Linked DNA regions of Homo sapiens. The protein of the gene in region 3 interacts with the protein of the main gene of each other region in a pairwise test. Each region holds a gene or a part of one and is shown on either strand. Other genes may lie near its edges. The genes, in order: CRX, PPIG and LGALS3.

Evidence for each region.
Region 1: the proteins of LGALS3 (region 3) and CRX interact in binary tests that used the Homo sapiens proteins (3 or more experiments, as listed by UniProt).
Region 2: the proteins of LGALS3 (region 3) and PPIG interact in binary tests that used the Homo sapiens proteins (3 or more experiments, as listed by UniProt).

What each region holds. Positions count from the first base shown.
Region 1 is NC_000019.10:47,831,789-47,835,442, forward strand, and holds part of CRX (cone-rod homeobox protein), read left to right. Parts: intron 1-2,620; 5' UTR 2,621-2,655; coding exon 2,656-2,755; intron 2,756-3,654. UniProt on the Homo sapiens protein: Transcription factor that binds and transactivates the sequence 5'-TAATC[CA]-3' which is found upstream of several photoreceptor-specific genes, including the opsin genes.
Region 2 is NC_000002.12:169,590,822-169,594,475, forward strand, and holds part of PPIG (peptidyl-prolyl cis-trans isomerase G), read left to right. Parts: intron 1-3,654. UniProt on the Homo sapiens protein: PPIase that catalyzes the cis-trans isomerization of proline imidic peptide bonds in oligopeptides and may therefore assist protein folding. May be implicated in the folding, transport, and assembly of proteins.
Region 3 is NC_000014.9:55,142,537-55,146,026, forward strand, and holds the end of LGALS3 (galectin-3), read left to right. Parts: intron 1-47; coding exon 48-213; intron 214-2,579; coding exon 2,580-2,735; 3' UTR 2,736-2,887; downstream 2,888-3,490. UniProt on the Homo sapiens protein: Galactose-specific lectin which binds IgE. May mediate with the alpha-3, beta-1 integrin the stimulation by CSPG4 of endothelial cells migration.

The DNA.
Region 1 (3,654 bases), on a different chromosome or scaffold from region 3:
CTGGAGTGCAGTGGCACGATCTGGGCTCACTGCAACCTCTGCCTCCCGGGCTCAAGCGATTCTCCTGCCTCAGCCTCCAGAGTAGCTGGGATTACAGGCGCCTGCCACCACGCCCGGATAATTTTTGTATTTTAGTTGAGACGTTTCACCATGTTGGCCAGGCTGGTCTCGAACTCCCGACCTCAGGTGATCCGCCTGCTTTGGCCTCCCAAAGTGCTGGGATTGCAGATGTGAGCCACCACACCTGGCCCCTAGAACAATTTTTTAAAACTATATAATGGAGATCTTTTAAAATCAGTTCAGAGAGCAGCCTTATGTTTTTTTTTTTTTTTTTTGAGACGGAGTCTCGCTCTGTCGCCCAAGCTGGAGTGCAGTGGCTTGATCTTGGCTCATTGCAACTTCTGCCTCCCGGGTTCAAGCGATTCTCCTGCCTCAGCCTCCCGAGTAGCTGGGATTACAGGCACGCGCCACCATGCCCGGCTAATTTTTGTATTTTCTGCAGAGACGGGGTTTCACCATGTTGGCCAGGCTGGTCTCGAACTTCTGACCTCTGGTGATCTGCCTGCCTTGGCCTCCCAAAGTGCTGAAATTACAGGCATGAGCCACTGCGCCCAGGCTTACTTTAAAAAAAAAATTAATTTTTTGTAGAGACAGGAGAGTTTCGCTATGTTGCCACCTGAACATAAATGCTATTTTCTTTTTCTTTTCTTTTCTTTTTTTTGAGACGGAGTCCGTAGCCCAGGCTGGGGTGTGGTGGCACCATTTTGGCTCACTACAGCCTCCGCCTCCCAGGTTCAAGCGATTCTCCTGCCTCAGCCTCCCAAGTAGCTGGGACTACAGGCGTGCACCCCTGTGCCCAGCTAATTTTTGTATTTTTAGTAGAGACGGGGTTTCACCATGTTGACCAGGCTAATCTCAAACTCCTGACCTCAAGTGATCTGCCTGCCTTGGTCTCCCAAAGTGCTGGGATTACAGGTGTGAGCCACTGCGCCTGGCCCATAAATGCGATTTTCATTCCCATTTTCCAACAAGGCGACTGAGGTATACATTGAAGGTGAATTACTAGGACAAAAGAAAGATGGCATTTTACTTCAATAACAGTTTGTTACAACCTGTACTGCTACCTATCTGCCATGGGAGTGTGCCTTTCCCCACACTGACACCAGTGCTGGAAGTTATCAACCTCCTTCATCTTTGCCAACCTGATAGGTCAAAAGTGATCATGGAAGATCCACACTCGCTTTTTTTTTTTTTTTTTTTTTGAGATAGGGGTCTATTTCTTTTTCTTTTTTCAGAGATGGGGGGTCTCACTATTTCTTTTTCTTTTTTTCAGAGATGGGGGTCTCACTATGTTGCCTAGGCTGGTTTTGAACTTCTGGGCTCAAGTGATTCTCCTGCCTTGACCTCCCAAAGTGCTGGGATTACAGGTGTGAGCCGCCTTGCTTAGCCCTTACTGTCGTTTTTTTGTTTGTTTTTGTTTTTGTTTTTTTGTTTTGTTTTGTTTTGTTTTTGAGACAGAGTCTCGCTCTGTCGCCCAGGCTGGAGTGCGGTGGTGCGATCTTGGCTCACTGCAACCTCTGCCTCCCGGGTTCCAGTGATTCTCCTGCCTCAGCCTCCCAAGTAGCTGGGATTACAGGCACCCGCCACCACACCTGGCTAATTTTTGTATTTTTAATAGAGATGGGGTTTCACCATGTTGGCCAGGCTGGTCTTGAACTTCTGACCTTAGGTGATCCATCCATCTCAGCCTCCCAAAGTGCTGGGATTACAGGCGTGAGCCACCTTGCCTGGCCCTTACTGTTGGTTTAATGCCACTCTCCCTTAGGGTGACCAACCAATCCAGTTTGCCTGGGACCATTCTGGCTCTAGCACTGAAAGTCCTGTGTTCCAAGAAACACCCACCTCTCCTCCAACCTGGGCAAAGAGGGACGGTTGGTCAACCTGCAGTCCTGGGTTATAAGTGAGGCTGAGCGTGTTTGCCCATGGTCAAGAAAGAAGGGATCTTGGATGAGGGTGTGTAACAGGATCAGATTTGTTTTGTTTTTTTCTTAGAGTCTTGCTGTGTCACCCAGGCTGGAGTGCAATGGCCTGAACACAGCTCACTGCAGCCCCAAACTCCTGGGCTCAAGTGATCCTCCCACCTCAGCCTCCTGGGTAGCTGGGATTACAGGCATGCATCACCACACCCAGTTAACTTTTTAAAGAACACTTTTTTTTTTTTTTTAAGAGACAGGGTCTTGCTATGTTGCTCAGGCTGGTCTCAAACTCCTGGGCTCAAGTGATCCTCCCGCCTTGGCCTCCCAAAGTGCTGGGATGACAGATGTGAGCCATTGTGCCTAGCCAGGACGAGATTTTTAGAGGGTAGAGTAGGAATAAGAGCTTGCACTTATGAGGCACATGATGGCTTCAGCTGTCTGCTTTGCAGAGTCTCAAGAAAGCTCTGAGAACCTTAAGCAGAGGCCATTTTACATGTGAGGACACAGAGGTACAGAGAGGTGAGATAAATGGCCAAGGTCACATACCTAAGAGGAGAAGGAGGCAGGATTTGAATCGCAGCCTGCACGTCACCCCATGGTGAGTAACTGGTAAGTGAGTGAGCATCCCTCCTCTTCTCTTGCAGGCCCCCTGACTTGGGCCTCAGTGTCCCCGAAGATCATGATGGCGTATATGAACCCGGGGCCCCACTATTCTGTCAACGCCTTGGCCCTAAGTGGCCCCAGTGTGGATCTGATGCACCAGGCTGTGCCCTACCCAAGTGAGTACAGTCGTTTCTCTTGGCACCCCAGGCTGGCCTCATCTCTTGGAGGACCTCTGGGGTCCCTTTGCCCCCAGGAAGAAGGCAATCACAGGGGCGACTTCAGGGCCATACACCAGCCCTCTGGGTTCATCTGAAATGTATGTCACTTAGAAAAACATTAGCAGTCCTAGAAATTCAGGACAGAGGTTCCTTTTGGGGTGAGGAAGAGGGGATGTAATCTGGAAGGGGAATCAAGAGGAATTTTCATCTGTTACCAAAACTTTATTATTTATTTATTTTTCAGAGACAAGGTCTCACACTCTGTCACCCAGGCTGGAGTGCAGTGGTGGTGGTCACGGCTCACTGCAGCCTCGAACTCCTGGGCTCAAGCAATCCTCCCACCTCAGCCTCCTGAGTAGCTGGGACTGCAGGTGTGAGCCATTGTGCCTAGGCCCGGGGGGCACTTTTTTTTTTTAATTTTATTTTTGAGACAGGGTCTCACTCTGTTGCCCACTCTGAAGTGCAATGGTGCAATCACAGCTCACTACAGCCTCGAACTCCTGGGCTCAAGCGATCCTTTTGCCTTGGCCTCCCAAATAGCTAGGATTACAGGTGCACGCCACCATGCCTGGCTAACTTTTTTAAGTTTTTGTAGATTTTGCAGGATCTGGATTATACAAAACATAGAAAAAATTATTATTATTTTTTTTTTTGTAGAGATTGGGTCTCCCTATGTTGCCCAGGCTGGTCTCAAACTCTTGGGTCCAAATAATCCGCCTGACTCAGCCTCCCAAAGTGCTGGGATTACAGGCATGAGCCACTGCACCTGGCCTGCAAAGCCTTATTTCTTTTTCTTTTTTTTTCTTTCGAGACACAGTTTAGACGGAGTTTCGCTCCTGCCCAGGCTGGAGTGCAAT
Region 2 (3,654 bases), on a different chromosome or scaffold from region 3:
GACTAGGCAATATATCCACAAAAAAATTTTTAAAAATTAGCTGGAGGTGGTGGCTCACGCCTTTAGTCCCAGCTACTCGGGAGGCTGAGGTAGGAGGATTGCTTGAGCCACTGCGTTCCAGGCTGCGGTGAGCTGTGATCTTACCACTGTGCTCCAGCCTGAGCGGCATAGCGAGACCCTGTCTCTAAAAATAGAAATAATTTACTTTGTATTTTTTCTAGATTAGAAACTCGGTGCTATGCTGACTTCCTCATAATGTGTGAAACTTCCAAATAACTTTAAAATATAATAAAGTTACCATATGCCTACTTATAAATGCCATGTCCGCTACTATATATTTTAATAATTAGTTGCCTATATTTTTGTCCTGTTTTTCATTTAGTCATGTTATTTTAGGATTAATATGGAAAATAGTTTATGTATGAAACTACAAGGATAAATTTTTTTACACATGAACTGGTTACCTCTTACTGATTTTTTTATGAAATGTGTTTGTTGCAGAAGTTTATAAATGATAGCACTGTGATATTTTTAAATTGTATTACCTTATTATTGAAATACAAAAGTGACTATATTGTTGATAAATATTAAAAATAACTTTAATCACCTGCATAGGAAAAACAAGAATATAATAAAAGTATTAAAAGCTATAGCTAAGTTTTAGAATTTTGTGCATTTTGTATGATTAATTTTTTTCAGTGAGCTTATTAGCTTTATTGCTTATCTTATTAAAAATGTGTTTTCATTATGATGAAAAAAGTAGATTCAGTATATTATACTTAAATTTCTGAAGGAGTCAAGCAGGTGAGGTAAGTACATGAGGTCAAGTAGACAATAAATTTTAACAGCTAATAAGCAATAGCTAGAATTAGGTCAAACTAGAACATATATATGTCATCTGTTGGGAGCAGACTATGCTGATTGCTGTGTAGAAATGGGGCACAGTGCCACATATTGTGATTTTTTTTTTTCCAAGAAAAATTTGTCTGGATTTTAGCTGTAGTTCATACTAAACAAATTTGCAGCAAACAAATCACCCACAGATTACTACTACACTGAAAATTTTGATTATATTCTAGTATTTTTAGGCAATTCATGATTTTTTTTTTTTTTTTTTTTTTTTTGAACAGAGTCTCACTCTGTTGGCCAGGCTGGAGTGTAGTGGCATGATGACTGCTCGCTGCAACCTCAACTTCCTGGGCTCAAATGATCCTCCCACCGCAGCCTCCCAAGTAGCTGGGACCACAGGCCTGGGTCATCACACCCAGCTAATTGTCATTTTTTTTTTAATAGAGATGGGGTCTTGCTGTTGCCCAGGCTGGTCATGGATATTTTATTTAAAATTGTAAGGGCTTAATTTTCCCCTGAATCATGTTTTTGGTATCTCCTAGCATTATTTTTTCTCTTTACTTTTACTTGAAAAAAAATGAAAAATTGACCAGATGTTTGTCTTACTGCATCTGGTTTCAGATGTCTTTTTTCTTTTTTTTTTTTTTTTTTTGAGATGGAGTCTCGCTCTGTCACCCAGGCTGGAGTGCAGTGGCGCGAACTCTGCTCACTGCAAGCTCCGCCTCCCGGGTTCACGCCATTCTCCTGCCTCAGCCTCCAGAGTAGCTGGGACTACAGGCGCCCACCACCACGCCCAACTAATTTTTTGTATTTTTAGGGGAGACGGGGTTTCACCATGTTAGCCAGGATGGTCTCAATCTCCTGGCCTTGTGATCCGCACGCCTCGGCCTCCCAGAGTGCTGGGATTATAGGCGTGAGCCACCGTGCCTGGCTCAGATTTCTTTTTTCTAATAGAGATGCGTTCTCATTATGTTGACCAGGCTGGTCTTGAACTCCTGGGCTCAAGTGATCCTCCTCCCTTCGCCCCTCAAAGTGCTGGGATTACGGGTGTGAACCACCGTGATTTCAGGTATTATTTAATAATCGAGGAAATCATAATTATAGAGGAAATAGGATATACTGTTTCTGATTAGTAATTAGTAACTTTTTATAATGATTAGTAATTAGTAGCATTTCAGTAATGTTAGCGACACAGCATGTGAGCCATCTTTTGTTGTCACCATTGTTTTTCATTAGCTGCTAATATTAAAACATTTACATATTCAAGGGATTTGTGTAGTAATTTTAATAGTAATTTGCTGCCTTTCATCTTTCTTGCATTTGAGGCATATGTGATTTGTCATTTCAGGAAAACTAATCAATTTCTATGAAGAGTGTATCCTTGAGTGATAGACTCTGAATACATCTTATAGCCATTTCCACACATGTACATTATAATGTTAGAAGACTGTGTGTGTATATATATATATATATCTTAGGAATTTTTTCTTTATAATAGCAGTACATTTATTATTTATTTTATTTATTTATTTATTTATTTTGAGACAGAGTCTTGCTCTTGTCGTCCAGGGTGGAGTGCAATGGCACAATCTCAGCTCACTGCAACCTCTGCCTCCTGGGCTCAAGTGATTCTCCTGCCTCAGCCTCCCAAGTAACTGGAATTACAGACACCCACCACCATGCCCGGCTATTTTTTTGTATTTTTAGTAGAGATGGGGTTTCACCACATTGGTCAGGCTGGTCATGAACTCCTGACCTCAGGTGATCTACCCGCCTTGGCCTCCCAAAGTAGCAGTACATTTATTAAAGAAAACTAGAAAGAAGTAGTGAGGCAAAAGCCCTCTCCAGTCTTACAGACACACACAATAATGATTTATTTCCTTTCACTCTTTTTTTGTCTTCTTGTAAGTCTTTGCCTGAGCTTGAAGGTCGGGAGTAGTTTACACAATCATCATTATGTTGCATATGCTGCTTTATATCTTTTTTTTTTTTTTTTTTTGAGACGGAGTCTCATTCTGTCACCCAGGTTGGAGTGCAGTGGCGTGATCTCGGCTCACTGCAAGCTTCACCTCCCAGGTTCACGCCATTCTCCTGCCTCAGCCTCCAGGTGGGACTACAGGCGCCCGCCACCATGCCCGGCTAATTTTTTTTTTTTTTTGTATTTTTAGTAGAGACGGGGTTTCACCATGTTAGCCAGGATGATCTCGATCTCCTGACCTTGTGATCTGCCTGCCTCGGGCTCCCAAAGTGCTGCGATTACAGGTGTGAGCCACCACGCCCGGCCCACTGTTTTATATCTTGATTATTTTTCCAAATTATTAATCTTCATAAGCATTGCTTTAATTATTGTTGAACCAGAGACAATTTCACTTTTTTGTGATATTATGATAGGTTGCTTTTGATTATATGTTGCTAAAAAGAGCACCAGCGTAGCCAACTTTATACCTGAAGGCTTTCTGAATTTAGAGTAGTTCCTCATAATAGATTTCCAACAGTTGAATTTTACTGGTTCAAAGTATAAACACTTATGAATTTCTCATATTCTTAAATTTCAAAGGAGTTGTATATGATCACTAGTAGTAGTATAAATTCCTGTTTCCATTTGTACATGTGTTGAGAGTTATTCTTTTAAAAGATCTTTGCTGTTGATAGGCAAAAAAAAAAAAACGCATTTTATTAGTACTTTTTTAAAAATAATTGTTTCCTGATTACGAAATTGAAGAAAAATTGGAAAACAAATACATTAAAAATTACCCTTAAACCCATGGCCCACACATGATGATTGCTAACATTATGGTGTAAATC
Region 3 (3,490 bases):
ATGTACAGCTTTAATCATTTTAATAACTGGTCTTTGGTTTAAAACAGAATTGCTTTAGATTTCCAAAGAGGGAATGATGTTGCCTTCCACTTTAACCCACGCTTCAATGAGAACAACAGGAGAGTCATTGTTTGCAATACAAAGCTGGATAATAACTGGGGAAGGGAAGAAAGACAGTCGGTTTTCCCATTTGAAAGTGGGAAACCATTCAAAGTAAGTTATTGCTACTATTATATATTGATAATGTATATTTCTCATGAGGAATCACTCTAAAACCCCAAAGCACTTGAAGTGAGAGTTTTTATCACCTCTCCTAAGGTGCCTAACCAGTTTATCTTCTCCCTGCCCAGGGGACCAGGCTCAGCAGGCTGAGAACATGGCCAGGAGTGGCACACTCCCCAGTTCCTTTCAGGCACCTCTCCATCATCACTGCTGCCACCCCTCTGAGTTTAAGCCTTTCTAGAAATGAAAAGAATATAATCTTTAACAAAAAAGGCAAAAAGTCTTTATGGTACAGTTATACTGCGACTTTGTTGCTTAAAACACAGTTGGCAGAGAGATGAAAACTAAAGGTTTTTTATTCTAAAATTAAAGTTTTATGAAAAGTTTATAAATTTTTAAATTAACAAAGTTTCCTATCTTTTACTCCTTCCCCCATCCTCACAAAGTTGCAATTCGATGAGTATCTTCCCAGTATTTTCTGACATACAGCACGCTTTTTATTTGTAAGCACTGCTTCAACAAATTAGATCCACAGCATTTAGGGTTGACTATAGAGTGGTGAATAAAACAGCTGGAGTGTAAACTCTTCAACAACAGGGACAAATAAGGACCACAGTCTACATTTGGTGGATATCTTTTCGTATCAGAATATTGTTACTTAATAGCACTTTTTTTTTTTTTCGAGACAGAGTCTCGCTCTGTCGCCAGGCTGGAGTACAGTGGCACGATCTTGGCTCACTACAACCTCCGCCTCCTGGGTTCAAGCGATGCTCCTGCCTCAGCCTCCCAAGTAGCTGGGATTATAGGCGTGCGCTACCATGCCCAGCTAACTTTTGTATTTTCTGTAGAGACGGGGTTTCACCATGTTGGCCAGGATGGTCTTGATCTCTTGACCTCGTGATCCGCCCACCTCAGCTTCCCAAAGTGCTGGGAGGATTACAGGCATGAGCCACCATGCCTGGCCAGTAGTATTTCATTTTTAGATATGTGATAATTTAACCAGTACCCTACTGATGAAAATTTACAGAATAGAAACACTCCAACCTGGAAAGATTTTACTAAAATACTGTAATAACTATCCTTACAAATCTTTGCTTCCTAGAAGCAAGTCTTCTAGAAATCTTTGCTTCCTAGAAGCAAGTCTTCTAGAAATCTTTGCTTCCTAGAAGCAAGTCTTCTAGAAATCTTTGCTTTAAATATACATGTTTACAATTTAGATATTGTCAAATTGCTGCTTCCAAAAAGATATAGGAATGAACATCCACTATTGGGAAGAGTAGATTTCTCCTACCCTTGCCAAAACTGATTATCATCAATCCTTACAACATTTGCCAGAGGAATCCTATTTTCGTGTTTTTCTTTTAGGTGTTTTAGACCATATCAGAACTTTTGGTTGTTTTGAGACAGGGTCTCACACTGTCACTCAGGCTGGAGTACAGTGGCATGGTCACAGCTCATTGCAGCCTGTCAACCTCCCAGGCTCAAACGATCCTCCCACTTGAGCCTCCTTAGTAGCGGAGACCACAGATGTATGCCACCCACGTGTGGCTAATTTTTGTATTTTTCTTGTAGAGATGGGATTTCACCATGTTGCCTGGGCTGGTCTCAAACTCCTGGGCTCAAGATCCGCCCGCCTTTGCCTCCCAAAGTGTTGGGATTACAGGCGTGAGCCACCACACCCAGGCTCTTTTAAGTTTTTATGCAGGCAAATCTTTAGCCTCCACCTTTATGGCTTCACTTATGTATCCTTCTAATAAATTTGCTGCTTTAAAAAAAAAACCTGAATAACTTGGAATTTTTTTGTTGTTGCTTTTTGTTTTTTTGAGACGGAGTCTCACTCTTTCGCCCAGGCTGGAGTGCAGTGGCACTATCTCGGCTAACTTCAAGCTCCGCCTCCTGGGTTCATGCCATTCTCCTGCCTCAGCCTCCCAAGTAGCTGGGACTACAAGGTGCCCGCCACCACAATCAGCTAATTTTTTGTATTTTCAGTAGAGATGGGGTTTCACTGTGTTAGCCAGGATGGTCTCGATCTCCTGACCTTGTGATCCACCCGCCTCAGCCTCCCAAAGTGCTGGGATTACAGGCGTGAGCCACCCCGCCCAGCATAACTTGGCATTTTTGCTGTAAAGTTACTTTCTCTGGATCTTAACTGGTCCCACAAATGATAAGGATGAAATGTTGGACATCCTGGGCTCAGGCCAGACTGGTTTGAAATTAATGGACATTTTTTCCCTTTATTTCAGTTGACAAAAAATTGTTTCTATAGTGCAGATGAAATATGTATATATTGTGGAATGCCTAAATCCAGCTGACATATGCATTACCTCATGTAACAGTTTATGTATATGCCATTTCAGATACAAGTACTGGTTGAACCTGACCACTTCAAGGTTGCAGTGAATGATGCTCACTTGTTGCAGTACAATCATCGGGTTAAAAAACTCAATGAAATCAGCAAACTGGGAATTTCTGGTGACATAGACCTCACCAGTGCTTCATATACCATGATATAATCTGAAAGGGGCAGATTAAAAAAAAAAAAAGAATCTAAACCTTACATGTGTAAAGGTTTCATGTTCACTGTGAGTGAAAATTTTTACATTCATCAATATCCCTCTTGTAAGTCATCTACTTAATAAATATTACAGTGAATTACCTGTCTCAATATGTCATTTAATTGGAGTGGTTTATTCTAGATAATGCACAATGGAAAAAATATGTAGCAATATTAATACTGCATTGGGGCCTCAAGGTTTCCTATACTTGTTAAAATATTTTTCTTAAGGAGAAAGTAAATATTACCACAAAATTATCTCTTCCAGAATTTCATAAAAATCAGCTGTTTCAAGAAAATTATTCTCTCATTTTCTTAAGGAAATATAACATGTTCAGGAAATCAGAATAGCATTAAGAAAAAGTTAACCTATAGATGACCTATGACCCATAGACAATTATTGTTAGGATTCTGGTATATTTCTTGACGGCTTTTTAATCCTATTTTCTCCTTCTATAGTTCACTGCTTTCAAATCAGTAATTTGATACCAATATAGGACCATCTCCCTGGTTTTTATGAAATCTCTTATGGAGAAAAAGGTATCTTATATAGTCGGCTTTCAAAATTTAATTGTTCCCATCGTCAACATTCTTGCCCATGCCTTTCTACCCTTATTAGCAGCAAGCCCAAAGATTAATAAAATTCCAAAACTAGGATGTGGCAAAACCACTTCATCTTATAGAAGACCAACATTTTTTTTTCTTTTTTGAGAC